3 linked regions of the Homo sapiens genome follow. The protein of the gene in region 3 interacts with the protein of the main gene of each other region in a pairwise test. Each region holds a gene or a part of one and is shown on either strand. Other genes may lie near its edges. The genes, in order: ZMYM6, DNAJC12 and TPH1.

Region 1 (8,077 bases), on a different chromosome or scaffold from region 3:
TTTTTATCCTAAGAGCAGTAGATAGCCATTATAGGGTTTTTTGTTTTTGTTTTGAGATGGAGTTTTGCTGCAATGTTGTAATCTTGGTGGCTCACTGCAACTTTCACATCCCGGGTTCAAGTGATTCTCCTGCCTCAGCCTCCCCAGTAGCTGGGATTATAGGCGCCTGCCACCACGCCTGGCTAATTTTTTGTATTTTTAGTAGAGACGGGGTTTCACCATGTTGGCTAGGCTGGTTTCAAACTCCTGACCTCAGGTGATCCACCCACCTCAGCCTCCCAAAGTGCTAGGATTACAGGCGTGAGCCACCACACCTGGCCAATTGTAGGGTTTTAAGTGAGAAAGTAAGATGAAACAGATTTGTGTTTGGAAAGATCATTCTGGCTACCCCATAGGGACCCAGAATGGAGAGCACGGAAATCAATGTGGAGGCTGGGCACAGTGGCTCACGTCTGTAATCCTAGCACTTTGGGAGGCCAAGGCAGGCAGATCACGAGGTCAGGAGATCGAGACCATCCTGGCTAACACGGTGAAACCCCGTCTCTACAAAAAATACAAAAAATTAGCTGGGCGTGGTGGTGGGCGCCTGTAGTCCCAGCTACTTGGGAGGCTGAGGCAGGAGAATGGCGTGAACCCAGGAGGCGGAGCTTGCAGTGAGCCAAGATTGCGCCACTGCACTCTAGCCTGGGTGACAGAGTGAGACTCCGTCTCAAAAAAAAATAAAATAAAATCAATGGGAGAGATGAGTTAGTTGTTTTGGCAAGGAATTTTTCTTCTGGGACAGTTCTTTCGCTTTACACTCAAAGTTATTGACTTTATTGTATCAGCAAAGCAATTATATTTTAAAATAATAAAAAACAATTTTATTTTTCACACCATCTCACAGGCAGTATCATTCCTTTTTTTTTTTTGAGATGGAGTCTTGCTCTGTCACTCCCAGGCTGGAGTGCAGTGGCGCGATCTTGGCTCACTGCAACCTCCGCCTCCCAGGTTCAAGCGATTCTCCTGCCTCAGCCTCCTGAGTAGCTGGGATTACAGGTGTGCGCCACCACGCCTGGCTAATTTTTTATATTTTTGTTAGAGACTGGGTTTCGCCATGTTGGCCAGATTGGTCTCAAAACTCCTGACCTCAAGTGCTCTGCCCACCTCGGCTTCTCAAAGTGCTGGGATTATGGTTGTAAGCCACCATGCCCAGCCACAGGCAGTATCATAAGAAGACAGGGATGTCAGGTAGGTTTTGTTTCACTCATGAACTCTATGCCTTGCTAGAGTGCTGGGCTAAGAAGAGTTCTGAGGTAGTGTCTGTTAGATGTGGAGTGGGGGATGGTGGCATCCATGCTACTTGTTTTCCCTCCAGATGGTAAATTCTTACTCTTTCTCTGCCTAAAGTAACCATTTCTTTGCCAGGTTTTGTGGTTTTTAGCTTTTAAATATTTTTTGTATCTGACCCATGATGTTCTTCTATATTTCATTATTTCTCTCTCTCTTTTTTTTGTTTCCTTTTTTTGAGACAGGGTCTCACTTTGTTGCCCATACTGGAGTGCAGTGGTGTGAGTATGGCCACTGCACTCTAAACGATCCTCCCATCTCAGCCTCCCAGGTAGCTGACCACAAACATGCTCCACCACACCCAGCTAGTTTTTGTAGAGACGGGGTCTCCTTATGTTGCCCAGGCTGGTCCTGAACTCCTGACCTCAAGCAATCCTCCTGCCTTGGCCTCCCAAAGTGCTGGGATTACAGGCATGAGCCATCATGCCTGAACTATTTCATTATTTTTCATTTGGACTTTTATAATAGTTTCCTACCTATTCTCCTTCCTTCAGTCACATATCCCATCAAAACACTCTACAGTGATGCCATTGTACTGTATAGATCGAGTGATATTTCTCCCTTTAAAGACCCTGTTTCCTCCAGTGTGATGAAGCAAAGATCTTTCAATGTGACATCCAAACCATCCATGTTTAGGCCTTTGTTTCCCTCTCCAGTGTCATCATTCATTGTTTCCACCTTTTCAAATCTATGCTGCTGCCAGCTATTTGCAGTTCACTCAAAACTATCTTCTAAAACTCGGTTGCATTTTATTTCCCTGCCTTTGCACCTGCCATTTCTTGTGCCGGTGGAAGAAGAAATAAGCTAGGTAGGCTGGCAAAATTTTGTCCTCTTTTAAGATGAAGTTTCTCACTCACAAGTAGAATGAGCTGTTCTCTCTCTCTTTTTTTTAATTGTATAGTGCAATCACTTTTATTATGGTATCTACAGGTCAATGAATTTTGTCTTCATACTGATTATACTAATCTGGCCATCTCCTCCTCATCTTTCATTGACACACTAGACTGCAGTCTCTCTGAAGTCAGAAATTGGTCTTATTGACCTGAATCTCCAATTCCTAGCACAGGATTTGGCACAAAGTACATGTTCAATAATTGGAATAAAAGAGCCTCTTTCACATATAAGGAAGCTGAACCTGAAGGAATAAGTGACTTCACCAGTGTCTCATGGTAAAACTGGGATACAACAGTTTGTTGTTACTCCAGATGCAATATTTCTTTCATTATACCTTGCCTATACACTTAACAAATAATGTGCTTTAAGTTAATTCAATGTTCTTTCTGAATATAAAAATTGTGATAATGGAAATCTCCCTAGCAGCTTAGATTGTATATTTAAGAGGGTAGGAACTGCTCAGTTGTCTTTGGTTTATATTAATGTTTTCAGGTGAATAGGCTATATTTTTTCATGATTGAGGGTATAGACTATGATTGAAAAGCCAATTGAACAAATTGTGTATTATTTTCTATGTTGCATTGATGAATCTCCTTTGAATATTGGAAAATAAGAGATAAATAAAAATGTTTTTTATTTTCTGATTTTCTAAGAGTTTGTTCTGGATATTAAAATTATAGTTGAAGGCCAGGCGCGGTGGCTTGTGCCTGTAACCCCAGCAGTTTGGGAGGCTGAGGTGGGCAGATCCCTTGAGGTCAGGAGTTCAAGACCACCCTGGCCAACCTGGTGAAACCCTGTCTCTACTAAAAATACAACAATTAGCCGGGCGCGGTGGTGGGCGCCTGTCATCCCAGCTACTCAGGAGGCTGAGGCATGAGAATCACTTGAACCTGGGAGGCGGAGGTTGCAGTGAACTGAGATTGCGCCACTGCACTCCAATCTGGACGACAAAGGGAGACTCCATCTAAAAAAAAAAAGTTGCAGTTTAGTCCTTATATTCATATATGTTGAGTATTCATATTCATTCAGTGAGTTTTTATTCCTGCCTGCTGTAATCCATAATACTTGAACATTGTTGTGAGCAGTTTACATACCTTAATCCATTCGATGCTCACAACCCTCAGTTAAGTACTGTTTCTCTTCCCACTTTACCCATGAGGAAGCTGAGTCCTAGATAGTAACCCGTTAAAAGTCACATAATTAATAAATGGTTGAGTCAGGATTTGGACTCCAGCAGTCTGATTCAAGAGCCCAAACCCTTAACCAGGATGGTAAACTGTATTAGTTACTTTGTTTTCAGAAAGGCTACAGAGATGAAAAGATAGGACTTCTGCTCTCAAGGTAATTGATAGTGTAATGGAGAGAAAAGTTATGAGAATGAGAGAAGTAATATTTGTTGAGTGACTGTGCCTTGTGAGAAGCTATGCTAAGCATATCTTATGCATTCTCATTTAAACCTAATTGTCTTCAAACTTGTATGCTTTCTGCTGCTTTGTGCCACCTTTTTTTTTTCTTTCTTTTTTTTTTTTTTTTTTTTTTGGGATGGAGTCTTGCTTTGTAGCCCAGGCTGAAGTGCAGTGGCGCCATCTCGGTTCACTGCAACCTCCACCTCCTGGGTTCACGCAGTTCTCCTGCCTCAGCCTGCCGAGTAGCTGGGATTACAGGTGCCCACCACCACACCTGGCTAATTTTTGTATTTTTAATAGAGACGGGGTTTCACCATGTTGGCCGGCTGGTCTCGAACTCTACCTGCCTCGGCCTCCCAAAGTGCTGGGGTTACAGGCGTGAGCCACCGTGCCTGGCCTGTGCCACCTTTTGTGCAAATACAAAATCAAGGCCATGAGTGGTGGCTCATACCTGTAATCCCAGCACTTTGGGAGGCCGAGGTAGGTGGCTCACTTGAGGTCAGGAGTTCAAGACCAGCCTGGCCAACACGGTGAAACCACAACTCTACTAAAAATACAAAAAAATTAGCCAGGCTTCGTGGCACATGCCTGTGATCTCAGCTACTGGGGAGGCTGAGGCAGGAGAATCACTTGAACCCAGGAGGCGGAGGCTGCAGTGAACAGAGATTGCTCCACTGCACTCCAGCCTGGGCAACAGAGCAATATTCCATCTGAAAAAAAAAAAATACAAAATCACAGTCTTAGGTAAGTGCTTTAAAATTGTGTGAGGTGCATTGGGAGCATAGGGGAAGGAGCCCTAAATCTATATGGGAAGGAGAGGAAGGTTTCACATAGCAGGTAGCAATTGTATTATAAAAATTGACTAAGAGTTTCAGACAGAGAAAATATAGCAGAGAAAATAGCCACGTCATGGAGGGGTGAGAGAATGTGGTGTGTTTAATAGTTGAGTATCAACAATAAAGTGGGAAAAGATAATAGATTTAAAAATGGTTAGGTAGGATTGATCAAATTTAGAGATTGTTTATGGGTGTGAAGGTCAAAGAGGAGTCCAAGGATACTTACAGGTTTTGGGGTTTATGGTGATACCATTTACTGAGGGGTTAGAACAGGATTTTGGAGGAAGTACTAAGTGCAGTTTGAGGTCTGTTGTGTTTAAAGGGCTTGTGGGACATTCAAGTGGTAAACTGCACAAGGAGGCATTTGCACATAAAAATCTGGGATTTGAGATTAGAAAGTTATCTACTTGGAGATGTAGGGCTTCCAGATAAAATACAGGATGCCAGGTTAAATTTGACTATCAAATAAACAATGGTGATTTTTACTATAAGTGTATTGCTTGCAATACTTGGAACATAATTATTCTAAAATAGCACTATTTCAGCTATAGCTAAAAAGAAGGTTTCCTTTTCCTGTAAGATAGCAGGACAGTTTGCTGAGCAATTTGTAGGTAAGGTGGAGGGGGCTGAGGGATGTTGAGGGAGTTCTTAGTTACTTGTTTTTACCTGGTGCAATTGAAACATCAATGAGCAGGAAAGATGTGGAGTTGGGACTCGTGAGCTATGAAGGTTTAGAAAAATTACTTTGTGAGGTAAAAGAAACTGGTCAGGGAAATATAACAGAAATACTAGAAAAATTTTAGAAATTGAGTTGATAAGGCAAAGAAATTTTTATTGAATCTGGCCGGGCGCGGTGGCTCATGCCTATAATCCCAGCACTTTGGGAGGCCGAGACGGGCAGATCACGAGGTCAGGAGATCGAGACCATCCTGGCTAACACGGTGAAACCCCGTCTCTACTAAAAATACAAAAAAATTAGCCAGGCATGGTGGTGGGCGCCTGTAGTCCCAGCTACTCCGGAGGCTGAGGCAGGAGAATGTCGTGAACCTGGGAGGCGGAGCTTGTAGTGAGCCGAGATCGTCCACTGCATTCCAGCATGGGTGACAGAGCGAGATTCTGTCTCCAAAAAAAAAAAAAAAATTTTATTGAATCTTAAACACTCATTTTGGTAATTTGAAGATGTATATAATATTTTTAATGTCCTCTTCATTTTGCAAGTGTCAATAAATATTGTTATTTAAGTATAATGTTTAAGAACATGCACTTTGGATTGAATAGACTTAGATTCCTTCATTTAGCAAGTATTTATTAAATGCCAGTTATGAAACTAATAAATAAGTATGAGAACTAGCATTTTGGCCAGGTGCAGTGGCTCACGCCTGTACTCCCAGCACTCTGGGAGGCCAAGGCGGGCAGATCACCTGAGGTCAGGAGTTCGAGACCAGCCTGACCAACATGGAGAAACCCCGTCTCTACTAAAAATACAAAATTAGCCAGGCGTGGTGGCGCATGCCTGTAATCCCAGCTACTGGGGAGGCCGAGGGAGGAGAATCGATTGAACCCTGGAGGTGGAGGTTGTGGTGAGCTGAGATCCGCCATTGCACTCCAGCCTGGGCAACAAGAGCGAAACTCCATCTCAAAAGAAAAAAAAAAAGAACTAGCATTTTGTGTACATATCGTGCTTGCTTTTGACTAACTGTAAGATGTCATTCTGTATACCTTATTTATATTAAGTCATTTGCCCCCTCCCTCCCCGTTGGCCCTATGGGTTAGGTAATATTATCTTTATTTTACAGATAAAGAAATTGAAACTAAGAAAGATTAAATAGCTTGTTTAGGAGTCAAGATCATATCTGTTTCTGTCTGCTGTTAGAACCTATAGTCATTACTGTTATGTTGACTGTGTTGGGCGATTGGGTATACAGGGGTGAGAAAAACAGGTATTGTCCATAATGGATGTGATCTTTTTAGTCTAATGTGTGTGTAGGGGGAAGGATGAATGTTAAGCATTAATCAAATTATCCAAATAAGCAATGAAATGATTTACTATGGTAACTGCTGTGAGAGAAAGGAGATGGGAGAGACTACTGCAACAGGGGAACTTAATTTCAGTTGGACCAGAGTTTGAATTCATTGTAGTAATTACTTTATATTTTCACATCTATGACAGTGCTATCTTGGGTTTTAGAACAGAGAGACTGGCTGGGTGCGGTGGCTCATGCCTGTAATCCCAGCACTTTGGGAGGTGGAGGTGGGTGGGTCACCTGAGGTCAGGAGTTCAAGACCAGCCTGACCAACATGGTGAAACTCTGTCTCTACTAAAAATACAAAAATTAGCTGGGCATGGTGGTGAGTGCCTGTAATCCCAGCTACCCAGGAGGCTGAGGATCACTTGAACCCGGGAGGGAGAGGTTGCAGTGAGCCGAGATGGCACCATTGCACTCCAGCCTGGGCTACAGAGCGAGACTCCGTCTCAAAAAGAAAAAAAAAACAAAACAGAGAGACTGGGTTTGATTCCCATCTGTGCACGTAGTCTCTTTGTGACCTTGGGCAAGTTGCTGAACATCTCTTAGCTTCACTTTCCTCATCTATAAAGAAGGCATATCTTATAGAGAGCACCTCTTTGGGTGCTCATAATACATATCATGGGAAGTGGTGAATTAATGCAATGGTTCCTAGTTTTTGGCATTTAATAGTCTAAAGAAATTTCTAAAGTAACTTTGGAACTAACATAGCTACTCATTTATTTTGCTATGTGTGGAGAGATTAAAAATACAACTGCCATTTATTACCATCATTGATTCAGAAAAGTAAGACTTTTTAAAAAACTTCCTGTTTTGAAATATGTAAGGGTATTTTAACATTAAAAAAAAGGATGGTTGCAATTTCAGAATAAAGATAGGCATTTACATTTTAAAAATGTTTCATGATTACATTTTGTTTTAAAACGTTTTAAAGAATGTGGTAAGAATAAATAGGATTTTGTCTGTGATGATTTTATGTATAATGAGCAGATTGCATTGACACTCTTGTATCTTTTCTGCCATTAACAGAAAAGGCAGCTTGTAAATCTAAAATGATTGAAATCCAAACTCTAAATCATTCAGATTTAACTTTTCTTTTTTTCTTTTTCTTTTTTTTTTTGAGGCAGAGGCTCGCTCTGTTGCCCAGGCTGGAGTGCAGTGGCACAATCTTGGCTTACTGCAGCCTCCTCCTCCCGGGTTCAAGTGATTCTCCTGCCTCAGCCTCCTGGGTAGCTGGGACTATAGGTGTGAGCCACCACGCCCAGCCAGATTTAATTTCATTTATTGCTCCTTTTTGCCGGGTGCAGTGGCTCACACCTGTAATCCCAGCACTTTGGGAGGCCAAAGTGGGCGGATCACCTGAGGTCAGGAGTTCCAGACCAGCCTGGCTAACATAGCAAAACCCCTTCTCTACTGGAAAAAAACACAAAAATTCGCCGGGTGTGGTAGCGCAAGCCTGTATTCCCAGCTACTTGGGAGGCTGAGGCAGGAGAATCGCTTGAACCTGGGTGTTGGAGGTTGCAGTAAGCCAAGATCACGCCATTGCACTCCAGCCTGGGTGACAGAATGAAACTCCAGCCTGGGTGAC
Region 2 (8,831 bases), on a different chromosome or scaffold from region 3:
GTGATAAGTAAAATTAGAATATCAAATTGTTTTGAAATTATAACAGCTAAAATGCTTTCGGGCATGATGAGTTCTGGTTAATTTTAGAGCATCAAATGAAGGAATACCTGAAGTAAAGGCAATCTATCCAATACAAATCAAGTAAAGGAAATGTCATATTAGTCAAAAATGTCATAAAAATATTTTTGAAATGAGAAGCATACCTATAAAAAGAAGAGAAAAGCCAGGTGCGGTGGCTCACGTCTGTAATCCCAGTATTTTAGGAGGCCGAGGTAGGCAGATCACGAGGTCAAGAGATGAAGACCATCCTGGCCAACACGGTGAAACCCCGTCTCTACTAAAAATACAAAAATTAGCTAGGCATGGTGGCATGTGCCTGTAGTCCCAGCTACTCAGGAAGCTGAGGAAGGAGAATCACTTGAACCTGGGAGGCGGAGGTTGCAGTGACCTGAGATTGCACCACTGCACTCCAGCCCGGCAACAGAGTGAGACTCCATCTCAAAAAAACAAAAAAAAGAGAGAAAAAATGACACACACACACACACACACACACACACACATATATATAAAGAAGTGACAATATTATGACAAACATTTCATTAAAAATAAATAATTGTTATCTAGATATGATATGCCATTGACAGACCAGTAAAATACATCCAGTAAAAGGAATGTTGAGACAAGGAAGTATGACTCCACCTGGTAACCATATTTTGAATATTACACATTAACAACGAGATTATTTTCTGTAAGGCTGTCCAAAATGAATCCTCCTTCTATGTAGATTGAAAAGACAACAGCATAACTTCAAAAGACTGACTATGCAGCCATAAAAAAGAATGAGTTCATGTCCTTTGCAGGGACATGGATGAAGCTGGAAACCATCATTCTCAGCAAACTAACACAGGAACAGAAAACCAAACACCACATGTTCTCACTCATAAGTGGGAGATGAACAATGAGAGCACATGGACACAGGCAGGGGAACATCACACACCGGGGCCTGTCGGGGGGTGGGGGAGAAGGGGAGGGACAGCATTAGGACAAATACCTAATGTATGCGGGGCTTAAAACCTAGATGATGGGTTGATAGGTGCAGCAAACCACCCTGGCACATGTGTATCTATGTAACAAACCTGCACATTCTGCACAGGGATCCCAGAACTTAAAGTAAAATTGAAAAAAAAAAAAAAGGACTGACTAAATAGGTCACAAGATTATGGAGATATAATGACCCTTACTGTATAAGCTAGCATGTATTTTTTTAAATCCAAATTGTCAGCCTTATCAAGTTAAATTATATTCCTTTGATTTTAAATTATTCCTTCAAAAATTGTTTGATAATAGTATAATTTCAACTGTGAATAACACATGGTAAAAATGGTAATAAGCTTTCTCAATTGCTATAAGCAAATCACCACCAACATAAACAAGAATAACACATTCTTGAGAAGAAATATGCAACTAAAAGACCATTATAAGCTATTCTGGGGGCGGGGCAGTTTTTTTAATTTCAACGTGTCTAAGATAACTTCCTCAGCATGGCAAAAATAGAGATTTTAATCCTTTGTGTCCAGTAATGCATTCTATTCTTAAAACAAAACTAAGCACATTTTATTAATGAACTACTGCCTTTATGAAACAACAATAAATATAAAAACATTTTGCTTTACAATGTTAATTTTACTACTTAGATTTTAATAAAAATAAATAAAATAAAATACATTAATTATAAAACATAAATATATCCTAATAACATGATTTAATAATATATAATTTAATAATGAATATATTTTATATTAATCTCAACATTATTTGAAATATTGAAAAATTGGAAATAAAATATTTAACAATAAGAGAATAATTCAACTGTGGTAACACAGCAAAATAAAATATTTTGCAACCACTAAAAAGTGTACAAGGAAAGTTTAATAGCATGGAAAATTCCTTGTTATAATACGAATGGGTAAAAAGCAGGAATCAACAAGTACATATAATATCCTCCCAAACAGGTCTTTAAAGAATATACATAGAAAGAATAGTGGAGATTAATATGCCAAAATATTAATACTGTTATCCTTGGGAGAGAGAATTATAAATGATTTTTCCATAATTTAAAAAACCTCTACAACCTTTATAATTGTTTATTGAGAACTTTAAAAATTTTGTTTTCTTACAGATCCAGTGAACAGCTACAGAGTTTTCACATGTTTTGTTTCAGAAGCCACCCTTTCAAGAAGTAATTTCTGTCACACAATTTGAAATATTAACATAAAGGGATGCTTCTTTGTTTCTATTTTGACTGCTCACATAGGAGTACACATTTTAATAAAATATATTAAAATCCCTAATTTTATAAGAAATTTCATTTCACCTCAATTATGAGTCACCATAATAAAGGTATAGCTTATATATACTGTGAAACACTGCCATCAGAAATTACAATAAAATTTCAAATATTTATTTTTAATATACTATATTGTGAAACAGCATATGGCCATGTGCCAGAATACACATATTTAATCAGAAGCTTCCGTAAAATTCCCATAGGACACTATTCAAGTAAAATCCCAACATACATTTAAATTCTTAACTTTCTCTGAGCCAAAAGTGCTTTAAAACAACACAAGGTTAGGTTTGTAGGCAATGTGACTAAAAATTCAAAGTTAAAACCTTAAATAAAAACTTGAAATACTATTGTGAAAAAGAATACTGTTGTGATAAAAATATTATCCACTGTCTTACCGAAGATAGTTCATCACATCCCAGTAATGTGTAGTAATCTTCAGTATCTTCTGACCTGTAATTCAGTATTGCATCCATTTAGATGACTTAATCAGTCCTTCTTCCCTCGGAAACAAGAGGCACAGTGAGCTTCGAATTAACAGGAAGAAACTCTTTAAATCTGAATTAGAGCAGCATGTTCCACATAGCAAAAACTAGCTTTAAGACTGGCCACAGTCAATACACCAGATGTCATCCTAGACCTTTGTAAACTCTGCCTCTCATTGGCTGTTTACAGAGAAGAAAAGAACAGTCCACGTGTCTATTATTGCAGTGCTGCCTGGGATCTGTAGTTTGAGTTTATATAAGAGATGCATGTGAACCATTTGTCTTATGAGTTAATAAAGACTGTCTATTTTCAGAAACTTGCCACATTAGCCACTTCTCCATCTCCTATATATTTTTGTCTCTATCCTTTAAAAAAAAAAAAGAAAAAAAATGTGAAGCAATGTGGTAAAATCTTAGGATGTGTTAATAAGGATAATGGGAGCTTTTCTTAGTGTTTAAAATACTTAATTTTATTTTTTATTTGTTTATTTTCAGACAAGGTCTCACTCTGTTGCCCAGGCTGGAGTGCAGTGGTGCAGTCTCAGCTCACTGCAACCTCTGTCTCCCCAGCTCAAGCGATCCTCCCACCTCAGCCTCCCTAGTAGCTGGGACCACAGGCACATAGCACCATGTCCAGCTAATTTTTGGTTTTTGTTTTGTTATGTTTTAAGAGGAGGGGGTTTTGCCATGTTGCCCAGCCTGGTCTCGAACTCGTGAGCTCAAAGCGATCTGCCTGCTTCGGCCTCCCAACGTGCTGGGATTACAGGCATGATCCACAGCGCCCAGCCAATAACACAGTCTTGATTTTTATGGAGCTTACGCTCTGATGGAGGAAGACAGCTGAAAAACATGCAAAAAAAAAAAAAAAAAAAAAAAACACGATCATTTAAAATAGTGATTTGTAAGCCAGGCATGGTGGCCCACACCTGTAGTCCAGCTACTTGGGAGGCTGAGGCAGAAGAATCACTTGGACCCAGGAGGCAGAGGCTGTAGTGAGCCGAGATGGTGCCACTGCACTCCAGACTGCGCTACAGAGCAAGACTCCATCTCAAAAAATAAAAAAATAAAATAGTGATTTGTGCTTTAGAGAAAATAAAATAGGACAATGAGAAGAACTGTATGATAACTCGGGTCAGATGGCTGTGCTATTTCTCCTGGGTTGGTTCTCCAGACTCAGGAGTGTCTCTAGTCTGAGGTAGGTCCAGGCAATTTATGTTTCAGTTCATTTTGGCCCTAAGAAACACAGTTCAGGTCTGGGATTTAGAGAACAAGGTGAGTGGTCAGGGACACAACACTTTGACTGCCTTAACACTTTTTTTGTTTCATTTTTCAGAGAGACAGGGTCTCGCCATATTGCCCAGATTGGTCTTAAACCCCTGGACTCAAGTGATCCTCCCACTTTGGCCTCCCAAAGTGCTGCGATTACAGATGTGAGCCAACATGCCTGGCCCTTAACACTTTAAATTCCCCCACCTGAGGGGAAAAAATAGTTTTTCTTTTAGCCCACCTATATACATCTTTTTAAAGGTTTATTTCTGAAGAGAAGCAAGAAAAAGCACTGAAACACCATTTTTTACTAATCCTTCATTGTACATGCTGTCTTGCTAAAAGTTCTATATAGAATTTTAAGGCCAGGCACGGTGGCTCATGCCATAATCCCAGCACTGGGAGACCGAGGCGGGCGGATCACGAGGTCGGGGGTTCGAGACCAGCCTGACCAATGTGATGAAATCCTGTCTCTACTAAAAATACAAAAATTAGCCAAGCATGGTGGCACGCACCTGTAGTCCCAGCTACTCAGGATGCTGAGGCAGGAGAATTGCTTGAATCTGGGAGGCGGAGGTTGCAGCGAGCCGAGATCGTGCCACTGGACTCCAGCCTGGGTGACAGAGCCAGGGTCCATCTCAAAAAAAAAAAAAAAAATTAGATCACAATATCTTGATCTAAATCACTGATAAATGGCCTTTTAATGATGTGAAGTTGCCATGGTGGAAAGCAGTATGGTGGTTCCTCAAAAAATTAAACATAGAACTACCATGTGACCCCACAATTCCACTTCTGGGTAAATACACAAAAGAATTGAAAGCAGGAACTTGAAAAGATATTTATATACTCATGTTCATCAAGGCATTAGTCATAATAGCCAAAAAGTGGAGGCAATGCAAGTGTCCATCAACGGATGACTAAACAAATGGAATGTTAGGGCTGGGCATGGTGGCTCACACCTGTAATCCCAGAACTTTGGGAGGCCGAGGCAGGCAGATCACTTGAGGCCAGGAGTTCGAAACCAGCCTGGCCAACATGGCAAAACTTCATCTCTACTGAAAATACAAAAAAGTTAGCTGGGTGTGGTGGCACATGCCTGTAATTTCAGCTACTTGGGAGGCTGAGGCACGAGAATTGCTTGAACCCAGGAGGTGGAGGCTGCAATGAGCTGAGATCACACCACTGCACTCCAGCCTGGGTGACAGAGCACGACCTTGTCTAACACAAACAAACAAAAAAGTGTGGTATTGGCCAGTTGCAGTGGCTTATGCCTGTAATCCCAGCACTTTGAGAGACCAAGGCAGGAGGATTGTTTGAGCCCAGGAGTTCAAAACCAGCCTGCGCAACATAGTGAGACTCTGTCCTTATTTTTATATTAATAATATAATTTTTTTTTTGAGACAGAGTTTCACTCTTGTTGCCCAGGCTGGAGTGCAATGGTGTGATCTTGGCTCACCGCAACCTCCACCTGGGTTCAAGTGATTCTCCTGCCTCAGCCTCCTGAGTAGCTGGGATTACAGGCATGTGCCACCATGCCCGACTAATTTTGAATTTTTAGTAGAGATGGGGTTTCTCCATGTTGGTCAGGCTGGTTTCAAATTCCAGACTTCAGGTGATCCACCCGCCGTGGCCTCCCAAAGTGCTGGGATTAGAGGGGTGAGCCACTGTACCCGGCTTAAAAGTTTTTAAAGTGTGTGGTATCTTCCCCCTGGCTCTCTTACTCCTGTTCTCACCATGTAACATGTCTACTCCCACTTCACCTTCTGCCATAAGTAAAAGCTCCCTGAAGCCTACCCAGAAGCTGAACGGATGCTGGCTCCATGCTTCCACATTCTGCAGAACTGTGAGCCAATTAAACGTCTTTTCAGTATAAATTACCAAGTCTTAGGTATTCCTTCATAGCAATGCAAGAATGGCCTGACACAAAAAATTGGTACCAAAGAGTGGGGCCTTGCTATAAAGATACCTGACAAAGTGGGAGCAGCTTTGAAACTGGGTAATGGGCAGAGGCTGGAAGACTTTGGAGGGCTCACAAGAAGACAGGAAGATGAGGGAAAGTTTGGAACTCCTGCAAGACTGGTTAAATGGTTGTGACCAAAATGCTGACGGTGATATGGACAGTGAAGTCCAGGCTAATGAGGTCTCAGATGGAAATGAGGAACTTATTGAGAACTGGAATAAAGGTCACTCTTGTTATGCCTTACCAAGGAACAAAGCTATATGGTATTCATGCCCTAGGAATCTGTGGAAGTTTGAACTTAAGAGTGATGACTTAGGGTATCTGGCAGAAGAAATTTCTAGGCAGCAAAGTGTTCAAGAAGTGACCTGGCTGCTTCTAACAGCCTATCCTCAGATGCAGAAGCAAAGAAATGACTTAAAGTTGGAACTTATATTTAAAGGGAAAGCAGAATGTAAAAGTTTGGAAAATTTGCAACCTAGCCATGTGGTAGAAAACAAAAACCCATTTTCAGGGCAAGAATCTAAGCAGACTGCAGAGCAACCACTTGCTAAAGAGATTTGCATAAATGAAAGGGAGCCAGGTCAGAGGCTGATAGACAAGACAATGAGAAAAAAACCTCAAAGGCATTTCAGAGATCTAAGAGGCAGCCCCTCTCATCACAGGCCTAGAGGCCCAGGAGAAAAGAATGATTTAGGGGGCCAGGCTCAGGGTGCTGCTGCCCTGTACCACTATGGGAGGCTGCTTCCTGCATCCAGCCACTTCAGCCCCAGCCTCAGCTCAAAGGGGCCCAGGTACAGCTCAGGCCACAGCTCAGAAGGGTGCAGGCTGTAAGCCTTGGGTGGCTTCCATGTGGTGTTAAGCCTGCAGGTGTTCAGAATGCAAGAGTGAAGGAGGTTTGGCAGCTTCCTCCTAGATTTCAGAGAATATATAAGAAAGCCTGGGTACCCAAGAAGAAGCCTACCACAGGGACAGAGCCCTCACCAAGAGCCTCTACTAGGGCAGTGCAGAGGGGAAATGGGAGGTTGGAACTTTAACATAGTTTGGAAAGTCTCCCTGCCTGAATCTCATGTTGAATTGTAATCCTCAGTATTGGAGGTAAGGCCTGGTGGGAAGTGATCAGATCATGGGACTGGATTTCTCATGAATGGTTGAGCACCATCCTCTTGATGCTGTCCTCACAAAAATGAGTGACTTCTCTGAGATCTGGCTGTTCAAAAGTGTGTATCACTTCACTCTCTGTCTCTCTTGCTCCTGCTCCCACCATAGGAGATGCCTGCTCCCCCTTCACCTTCTGCTGTGATTGCAAGCTTCCTGAGGTATCCCCAAAAGCAGATGCCTGTGTTATGCTCCCTGTGCAGCCTGCAGAACCATAAGCCAATTAAATCTCTTTTCTTTATAAATTACCCAGTCCCAGGTATGTCTTTTCTTTTCTTTTCTTTTTTTTGAGACAGAGTCTCACTCTGTCGCCCATGCTGGAGTGCAATGGCACAATGTCAGCTCACTGCAACCTCTGCCTCCTGGGTTCGAGCAATTCTCTGCCTCAGCCTCCTGAGTAGCTGGGATTACAGGCGCCTGCCACCACACCTGGCTAATTTTTTGTATTTTTTAGTAGAGATGGGATTTCACCATCTTGGCCAGGCTGGTCTTGAACTCCTGACCTCGTGATCCACCCACCTTGGCCTCCCAAAGTGCTGGACTACAGGCATGAGCCACTGCACCCGGACTTAGGTATTTCTTTTTTCTTTTTTTTTTTTTTTGTGATGGAGTCTTGCTCTGTCACCCAGACTGGAGTGCGACGGCGCAGTCTTGGCTCACTGCAACCTCCACCCCCCGGGTTCAAGCGATTCTTCTGCCTCAGCCTCTCAAGTAGCTGGGACTACAGGCACAAGCAACCATGCCCAGCTAATTTTTGTATTTTTAGTAGGGACAAGGTTTCACCATACTGACCAGTCTGGTTTCAAACTCCTGACCTTGTGATCCGCCTGCCTCAGCCTCCCAAAGTGCTGGGATTACAGACATGAGCCACTGCACCTGGCCAGGTATTTCTTTATAAAAATGTGGGAATGGCCTAATACAAACTCCCACACAGAGTCCCCACTGGGGCACTGCCTAGTGAAGCTGTGGGAATAGGGCCCCCACCTTCCCGGCCCAGAGTGGTAGATCCACTGGCAGCTCACACCCTGCACCTGGAAAAGTCACAGAGTCACAGGCACTCAACTCCAACCCAGGAGAGCAGCCTGCAAAGCCACAAGGGCAGGGCTGCCCAAGGGATTGGGAGCCCACCCCTCACAGCAGTGTGCCAAGGACGTGAGACATGGAGTCAAGAATTATTTTGGATCTTTAAGATTTAATGAATGTCCTGCTGGGTTTCAGGCTTGCTTGGGACTTGTTGCTCCTTTCTTTTTTTTCCTTTTTTTTTTTTGAGGTGGAGTCTTGCTCTGTTGCCCAGACTGAAGTACAGTGGCACAATCTCGGCTCGCTGCAACCTGCACCTCCCAGGTTCAAGCTATTCCCCTGCCTCATCCTCCCTGAGTAGCTGGGATTACAGGCATGTGCCATCACACCCGGCTAATTTTTGTATTTTTAGTAGAGACGGGGTTTCACCATGTTGGCCAGGCTGGTTTCCAACTCCTGACGTCAGGTGATCCACCCTCCTCAGCCTCCCAAGGTGCTGGGATTACAAGCATGAGCCACAGCACCCGGCATGTTGCTCCTTTCTTTTAGCTGATTTCTTCCTTTTGGAAAGGGAATGTTTGCCCAATGCCTGTATCTC
Region 3 (8,475 bases):
TGAAGCAGTCACTCCTCACTCTCCCACTCCCTCACACCCTGCCTTGGGCAACCACTGCATTGTATTCTGTTTCTATAGATTTACCTATTCTGAATATTTCATATAAATGGAATCATAGGACATGCAACCTTTATTTCTGGCTTCTTTCACGTTATGTAATGTTTTCCAGGTCCATCCATGTTGCAGCATGTATCAATGTTTCATTATTTTTATAAGGAAGAATACTATTCAATTGTATGTGTATACCACAGATTGTTTACCTCACTTATCCGTTGATGGACATTTGGATTATTTCCATCTTTTGGCTGCTGTGGATAGTGCTGCTGTGAACATTCTCATACAAGGATTTGTTCAAGTTCCTCTTTTCAGTCTTTTGTGTGCATACCTAGGAGTGGAAGTGCCAGGTCATATGTTAATTCTGTGTTTAACTTTTTGAGGAACCAACAAAATTTTTCCCACAGTGGCTGAGCCATTTTATCTTCCGACCAGCAAGATAGGATCCAATTTCTCCCAGTTCTCACCAACACCTATTCTTTTCCTAAGTTTACTTTAGAACATGTGAAGATGCCAATGTATCATGTATACAAGGTAAATTATTGGATATAAAGGTCTAGAGTTCAGAAGGGAGATCTGAGTTTGAAACACACATTTTGGAGTTGTTCGCATAACAAGGGTACAGGAAAGGAGGTGCAATTGACGAGGAAGAGGGTATAGACTGGAAAGAGAAGAGGGCCCAAATCCTCACCCAGCCAGAGGAACCCTGAATACCTGGAGGGAAGAGAAAGAGGAACTCCTAAATGAAGATGGAAGAGGATCAATCCAAAGGTTCCACCAAATGAGAAACTGAGAGGTTGGAATGTGTCCCCTCTCAAATATGTTCTGCTGGAGATCTGGGGAGTGCAGCGAGGTGTCCTTTACCATCAGTGCAGTGAGCACTTTCAGTTTCTCAAAAGCCCCATCTCCAGGTCAGAGAACTCCTTCACCATAGGTTCCACAGATTAAAATGATAGGACACACTTAAGGAGAAAGACCATTTCCCATCTAAATACTGCCCAAAGTGTCTAGTTTCAGTGCCTCTCTGTGGTAGGCAAAATAATGGCATCCCCAAATTGTCCATGTCCTAATGTCTAGAAACCATGACTATGTTATCTAACATGAGAAGAGATTTTGCAAATGTGATGAATGGTTTTGAGATGGGGGATCATCCCAGATTATCTGGGTAGGCAGAATGGAAGCACAGGGTCTTTGTCACTGAAAGGAGACAAAGACTTAGATTACAAGATGCCACATTGCTTGCTTTGAAGATGGACAAAGGGGTCATGAACCAAAGAATGCAGTGACCTCTAGAAGCTGGAAAAAGCGAGGGGACAGATTCTCCCCTGAAGCCTGCAGCAGGTACCCAGCCCTGATGACATCTTGATTTGTAAGTGTCAACTACTAAGGCCTTTCCACCTCAGGGCCAGCATCCAACCTATTCTCTTGACCTCCTTGTGGATGTGCTCATTAAATGAGTTGGTGCCATCTCTCTTCTTCATCAGGGGTGGTTTAAGCCCTCCTGTAGTCCCAACTTTAGGAAAGACATCTTTTTTCTATTTTTAAATTTATTTTTATTTATAATTTTTGTGGGCATGTAGTAGGTGTATGTACTTATGGGATACATGAGATATTTTGGTAGAGGCATGCAATGTGTAATAAACACATCATTGAAAATTGGGTATCCATTCCCTCAAGCATTTATTCTTTGTGTTACAAACAATCCTATTATATTCTTTTAGTTATTTTTAAATGTGTAATTAAATTATTATTGACTATAGTCCTCCTGTTGTTCTATCAAATACTAAGCCTTTTTCATTTTTTCTGTTTTTTGGTCCCCATTAGCCATCCCCCACAACCCCCCATTCCCTGTACCTCCCACTACCCTTCCCAGCCTCTGGTAACCATCCTTCTATTCTCTGTCTCCATGAGTTTAGTTGTTCTGATTTTTAGATCCTACAAATAAGTGAGAACATGCGATGTTTGTCTCTGTGCCTGGCTTATTTCACTTAACATAATGATCTCCATTTCCATCCATGTTGTTGCAAATGACAGAATCTCATTCTTTTTTATGGCTGAATGGTACTCCATTGTGTGTAAGTACCACATTTTCTTTAACCATTCGTCTGTTGATGAACACAGGTTGTTTTCAAATCTTGACTATTGTGAACAGTGCTGCAACAAACATGAGAGTGCAGATATCTCTTCAATACGCTGATTTCCTTCCTTTGGGTATATACCCAGCAGTGGGAGTGCTGGATCATATGGTAGCTCTATTTTCAGTTTTTTGAGGCACGTCCAAACTGTTCTTCATAGTGGTCGTACTAATTTATTATACATTCCCACCAACAGTGTACAAGGGTTCCCTTTTCTCCACATCCTCTCTAGTATTTGTTATTGCCTGACCAGGGTGAGATGACATGTTATTGTAGTTTTGATTTGCATTTATCTGATGACCAAGGATGTTGAGCACCTTTTCATATGTCTATTTGCCATTTGTATGTCTTCTTTGGAGAAATGTCTATTCAAATCTTTTGACCATTTTTAATTGGATTATTAAATTTTTTCCTATAGAGCTGTTTGAACTCCTTATATATTCTGGTTATTAATCCCTTGTCAGATGGGTACTTTGCAAATATTTTCTCCCATTCTGTGAGTTGTCTCTTCTCTTTGTCAATTGTTTCCTTTGCTGTACAGAAGTTTTTTAACTTGATGTGATCCCATGCAATCATTTTTCCTTTGGTTGCCTGTGCTTGTGGGGTATCACTCAAGACATTTTTGAGTAGACTGATGTCCTGGAGTGTTTCCCCAATGTTTTCTTGCAGTGGTTTCATAGTATGAGGTCTTAGATTTGAGTCTTTAATCCATTTTGATTTGATTTTTATATATGGTGAGAGATAGGGGTCTAGTTTCATTCTTCTGATGGATATCCAGTTTTCCCAGCAGCATTTATTGGAGAGACTGTCCTTTCCCCATTGTATGTTCTTGGCAACTTTGTCAATAATGAGTTCACTGTAGGTGTGTGGATCCGTTTCTGGGTTCTCTATTTTGTTCCATTGGTCTATGTGTCTGTTTTTATGCCAGAACCATGCTGTTTTGGTTACTGTAGCTCTGCAGTATAATTTGAAGTCAGGTAATGTGATTCCTCCAGTTTTGTGCTTTTTGCTCAGGATAGCTTTGGCTGTTCTGGGTCTTTTGTGATTCCATATAAATTTTAGGGTTGTTTTTTCTATTTCTGTAAGGAAAGTCTTTGGTATTTTGATAGGGATTGCCTTGAATCTGTAGATTGCTTTGGGTAGCATGGACATTTGAACAATAAGGATTCTTCCGATCCATGAACTTGGAATAGCCTTCTGTTCTTTTGGTGTCCTCTTTAATTTCTTTCATGAGTATTTTATAGTTTTCATTGTAGAGATCTTTCACTCCTTTGGTTAATTCCTAGGTACTTATTTTATTTGTGGCTATTGTAAATGGGATTAATTTCTTTTTCATACTGTTCACCATTGGCATACAGAAACGCTATTGATTTTTGTATGTTGATTTTGTATCCTGCAACATTAGTGAATTATTTAATCAGTTCAAATAGTTTTTTGGTGGAGTCTTTAGGTTTTTCCAAATATAGGATCATATCATCTGCAAACAAGGATAATTTGACTTCTTCCTTTCCAGTTTGGATGCCCTTTATTTCTTCTCTTGTCTGATTGCTCTAGCTAGAACTTCCAGTACTATGTTGAATAATAGTGGTGAAATTGGGCATCCTTATCGTGTTCCAGATCTACAAGGAAAGGCTTTCAGTTTAGGAAAGACATCTTTGACCTCAGCTTGGTTCTGAAAGGTCTCTCCCTGACCAGTATTTTTTATGGCATTGAAGTAAGAGCACTGGATTTAAACTCAGACACTTTTGCTTGATTATTGATGGTACTTACTAGCCTGTGCCAGAATAACGTCTTAGAGCCACCCCTGTGCTTCAATTTCCGTATCTGTAAAATACAAATAATATGTACCTCATAGAAGCATTATACAGATAAAAGAAAAATGCATAGAAAAGCTGTAAAGATCCTGAGCTTTAAAGTACATCCATACTCAGCAAAAAAGAAAACAGGAAAGAAAAGGAACAAATCACTAATACCTGCATGAAACTCAAAAGCATTATGTTAAGTGCCAGGAGCCAAAAATCTGTACATATTTCATGATTTCATTTCTGTGACATTCCAGAGAAGGCAAAACTGTGGAGACAGAAATCAGATCAGTGGCTGCCAGGGGCTGGGTGTGAGGTGAGAGACTTTAGACAAGGGAAATTTCTCGCAGTGATAGAAATGTTCTATATTTTGATCGTTTGGTGGTTACACAACTATACATGTTTGTCAAAACTCAGAATTGTACACCTCACAGGGTGAATATTACTGTATGTTAATTATACATCAATAAATCTTACTTTTCAAACATTGGAGGAAAGAATGTCCTATAATATACTTCGTTATGTGTACAGTCCTTTGGGATAAGGAGCTAATCGACTGACTACTCAACCAGTAAATACCTATTCCAAATTTTTTGCCTCTATGTCCTGTTGTTCACAATAGCACGTAATATGATTTTTTGCTAATATAGAATGCTTCTCTGCTTGCAGCTTAAAATTTTTTTTTAATTAGAAGGGCACTGAACACTTCTCTTCTAAAAAGTTCAACTAACTGTTGCTCTGCCTCAAGGAATGGGGGAAAGCACCAAGAGAATAATAAGTCAGGACTGGGCTATTAAATAGCCCAGAAGCACAGAGAGGTGTGGGAGGTGGGGGGATTCTTGCTTTGGTCTCCAACAGGCGAGAAGCACTGCAGTCCTATAGCAGGTCATTGTGTCGATAATAGGCGTTATCTTGGTTTGGAGAGAATGTCCAACTCTGGATTGTTCAGTGTTAGTCAGACTTGTGTGGTTAAGGACGGCCTAACATTCACTTAATTAAAACACCAGTCAGATACACGCAGAGATTGAGGCGTGCAAGTCTCTGGGAGCAGGCGGACGCGACTGCCCACGCCCCACACCCGCCGGCCCTCCCTTCTCATTGGCCGCTGCCCAGCTGCTCCGACGCCCGCTTCTATAAGAGACAGGCAGCGCGGGGCCGCCGGCCGACCCAGCCTGCACCTACTGGCGCCCGAGGTGAGTGAGGCGGCCCTTCCCGCGGGCACCGGGGACCGCCGTCGAGGCTTTGGCGGCGCTTGGCAGGCGCGGGGCTGGGCAGAGTCACCCTCCCGGGAGGTAAATTGGTGGTCTTGCGGAGTCAGATTTGGGAGGTCGGAGTTGTACCCCTATAAACGCTTACTATTCTTTCCTCCCACGCTGTTTGGGGAGAAAAGACACTTTCTGAGTGCCTCCTGTGTGCCAGGAACAGACTCTTTAGCCATCATGAGATTTCACCTTCATGACAAACTCTGGTAGATATTTCTTGAGTCCCCAGATGAGGAAAGTGGGGTCCAGAGTCCAACCCAAGTCTGTGTGACTCCTCTATGTTGGCAGAAACAGTAAGATTTTTCTTCCTTCCCTTCCTCTCCATCAAAGGGCAATGTCTCTTTTTTTCTTCTCCTCCCATGAAGGGAAGCTTCCCTTAAACAGCCTCCCGAAGAAGAAGGAGTCTCAGATGCAAAGCTTCTCAGCATCGCACTTACCATCATCACCACCATCCCAACAGACGACTGAGAGCTTTTTGCAAGGTCGCAATTGACAAAGAGGACTAGGTCCTTGCGGTTTAGAGTCAGTTAAGAGTCCGTGTGAACTCAACCTTGCCTTTGGCGTTTGATTTTCAGAGGTTTAAAATGAACTTCTCATTGATGTCCCACTCTACTTGACTTAGCAGGAAAAAGACTAGAGTTGAACTTGCTAACCCAGGAAAAGTTTGTGCCTGTTAGTTAAAAAAAAAAGGGGGGGGTGGAATTCTAATATCAATGTTTCTGTAAAGTTATAATCTGTGGTTTACATATGTTATCACTGAGGTCCATTTGTACATGTATTATTAGATTATCTCCAGATAGGGATGTGTCTTCTATTTCCATTTTCTCTGCCAGTGCCTTTATTTCCTAGAATACTGTTTTTCATGGATAGTGTTTTCTTTTGTATTTCATCTACACTTTCATCCTCATTCCCACTCCTTATTTAGAAAAGAAAATCAAGACTCCGTAGAGGATTCCCTCCCTCTGAAAGAATCCTCCTTGCAGTTTTTAGTTCTGTCTTCAAACAATATCCATGCTTTCAAAAGACTAATTCAGTAGTGCTTTGTGCTTCCTAGATCCGGTAAATATAAATTACACTTGTTTTACTGATTAAACTAAGGGAAGAAAAGAGTTGGTCATTGTATACGCCTTGACCTCTCCCAAGGGTCGGGTCTGTTGATCTTCTGAGTGTCTTCTTGGTATTTTTTCCTTATTTCCAGTGGTATGTCCTACACAGTGCATCCTTAGGCCAGGAGACGCAGTAGGAAAATGACTCTACCTTTCATGAGAAAAGGGTACCAGTTGGTATTAGCTGATCAGAGAGTTGCTTTAAAAATAAAATGCTTATGTATTGATGAGACACTGATTCAAACAAGTGTGACCTATTTTATCTTACCAGGTTAGTATTGTGTTTTTTTGTTTTGTTTTGTTTTGTTTTGTTTTCCTGAAAGAGTAGGAGGAGGTGGGTAGGTTGAAAGGGGAAAGGAAAAAGTAACAAGGCAAAATATTGAGGTTCTGAAAGCGGTTTGGGGTTAACTGGAGGAAAAAATAACTGATGCCTCATAAGCTCTGTCAACCAAGCAAAGTTATGGCCAAGTTTTAGTAACGATCAAAGATCTATGTCCTGTAAGATTATTTTGGGGTGGGGGGGAACAAAAAAGAGGGTGAGAATTTTCTTCTAGTTTTCTAGTTTCTTAGCAAAAGTTCCTTTTGAGAACCTTCATTTTTACCATGACTTAAACAAGGAGGAGTGTTTCCACATCTTTTTTTTTGAGACGCAGTCTTGCTCTGTCACCTGGGCTGGAGTGCAGTGGCGTGATCCTGGCTCACTGCAACCTCCGCCTCCCAGGTTCAAGCCATTCTCCTACCTCAGCCTCCCAAGTAGCTGGGACTACAGGCGCCCGCCACCACACCCAGCCAATTTTTGTATTTTTAGTAGAGACGGGGTTTCACCATGTTGGCCAGGATGGTCTCGCTCTCTTGACCTCATGATTCGCCCGCCTCGGCCTCCTAAAGTGCTGGGAATTACAGGTGTGAGCCACTTACATCTTAATATAATAATGTATGTCTTTAAATACATCAAAATAATATAAATGCCTTGCATATCATAAATTTCAATTAATGTATCCTTCACCCTCCTCTCCCCACACCAACTAAGGAGATGTTGGCACAAAACTTGATCCATTCCAGAATCAGGTAAAGAAAATAATTATGAACCCTAAAGGGATGGAGCCATGACTGTTAGCACCTTCTCACAATAGCAACTTCCAGGAAAGCTTAGGGACCAGTTTTGAAAATTGAAGGAAATTCTCTTTTTTTTTTTTTTAAGAGACAGGGTTTCACTCTGTCACCCAGGCTGGACTGCAGTGGCGCGATCATGGATCACTGCAGCCTAGAACTCCTGAGCTCAAGCAAGCCTCCTGCCTCAGCCTCCCTAGTAGCTGGGACTGCAGGTGAAAGCCACTATGCCCAGCTAACTTAAACAATTTTTTTTGTTGTTGTTGTTCATACAGCATCTCACTATGTTACCCAGGCTCTTCATAATAGTTTTTGTTGTTGTTGTTGTTTGTTTGTTTTTGTTTTTGTTTTTTGAGACGGAGTCTCACTCTACTGCCCTGCCAGAGTGCAGCGACACGATCTTGCTCCCTGCAACCTCTGCCTCCTGAGTTCAAACGATTTTCATGCCTCAGCCTCCCGAGTAGCTGGGATTACATGCATGTGTCATCATGCCAGGCTAATTTTTGTATTTTTAGTAGAGACGGGGTTTCACCATGTTGGCCAGGCTGGTCTTCAACTCCTGACCTCAAGTGATCCACCCACTTTGGCTTTCCAATGTGCTGGGATTACAGGCATGAGCCGCAGCAGCTGGCCTCATATAGTTTTATATGAAGAGTTTTATTCCAAGCTCCAAGAGGTTGTTGAAAGACAAATTATCAGGAGATCTAGAATTCTGTTAGTGTTACCACTGACTGGAAAAAATCAGTGGTAACTTTTCTTTACTGTTCTCTGATCCTTGCTCCCAGTTCTTAAAGCTGATTTACATGATGAAGCTAGTGGTTGGCCAGGAAATAGCTTATATTTGCAGAATCCTCTTCCTTCTGCATGTCATGGTGATGGTATCAGGAAACATGAGGACTCAGTAACTATAGGGTAACTCAGTACATTTTACTTTGGGGTCTTTGTCTATTTGTTTGCAAAAAAACTGCTGAATTATTTTCTTGAGATTTGGAATTTAATACACTTT

What was found.
Region 1: the proteins of TPH1 (region 3) and ZMYM6 interact in binary tests that used the Homo sapiens proteins (3 or more experiments, as listed by UniProt).
Region 2: the proteins of TPH1 (region 3) and DNAJC12 interact in binary tests that used the Homo sapiens proteins (3 or more experiments, as listed by UniProt).

What each region holds. Positions count from the first base shown.
Region 1 is NC_000001.11:35,021,152-35,029,228, reverse strand, and holds part of ZMYM6 (zinc finger MYM-type protein 6), read left to right. Parts: intron 1-8,077. UniProt on the Homo sapiens protein: Plays a role in the regulation of cell morphology and cytoskeletal organization.
Region 2 is NC_000010.11:67,835,189-67,844,019, forward strand, and holds the start of DNAJC12 (dnaJ homolog subfamily C member 12), read right to left. Parts: upstream 3,001-8,831; 5' UTR 2,824-3,000; coding exon 2,746-2,823; intron 1-2,745. UniProt on the Homo sapiens protein: Probable co-chaperone that participates in the proper folding of biopterin-dependent aromatic amino acid hydroxylases, which include phenylalanine-4-hydroxylase (PAH), tyrosine 3-monooxygenase (TH) and peripheral and neuronal tryptophan hydroxylases (TPH1 and TPH2).
Region 3 is NC_000011.10:18,042,950-18,051,424, reverse strand, and holds the start of TPH1 (tryptophan 5-hydroxylase 1), read left to right. Parts: upstream 1-5,155; 5' UTR 5,156-5,184; intron 5,185-8,475. UniProt on the Homo sapiens protein: Oxidizes L-tryptophan to 5-hydroxy-l-tryptophan in the rate-determining step of serotonin biosynthesis.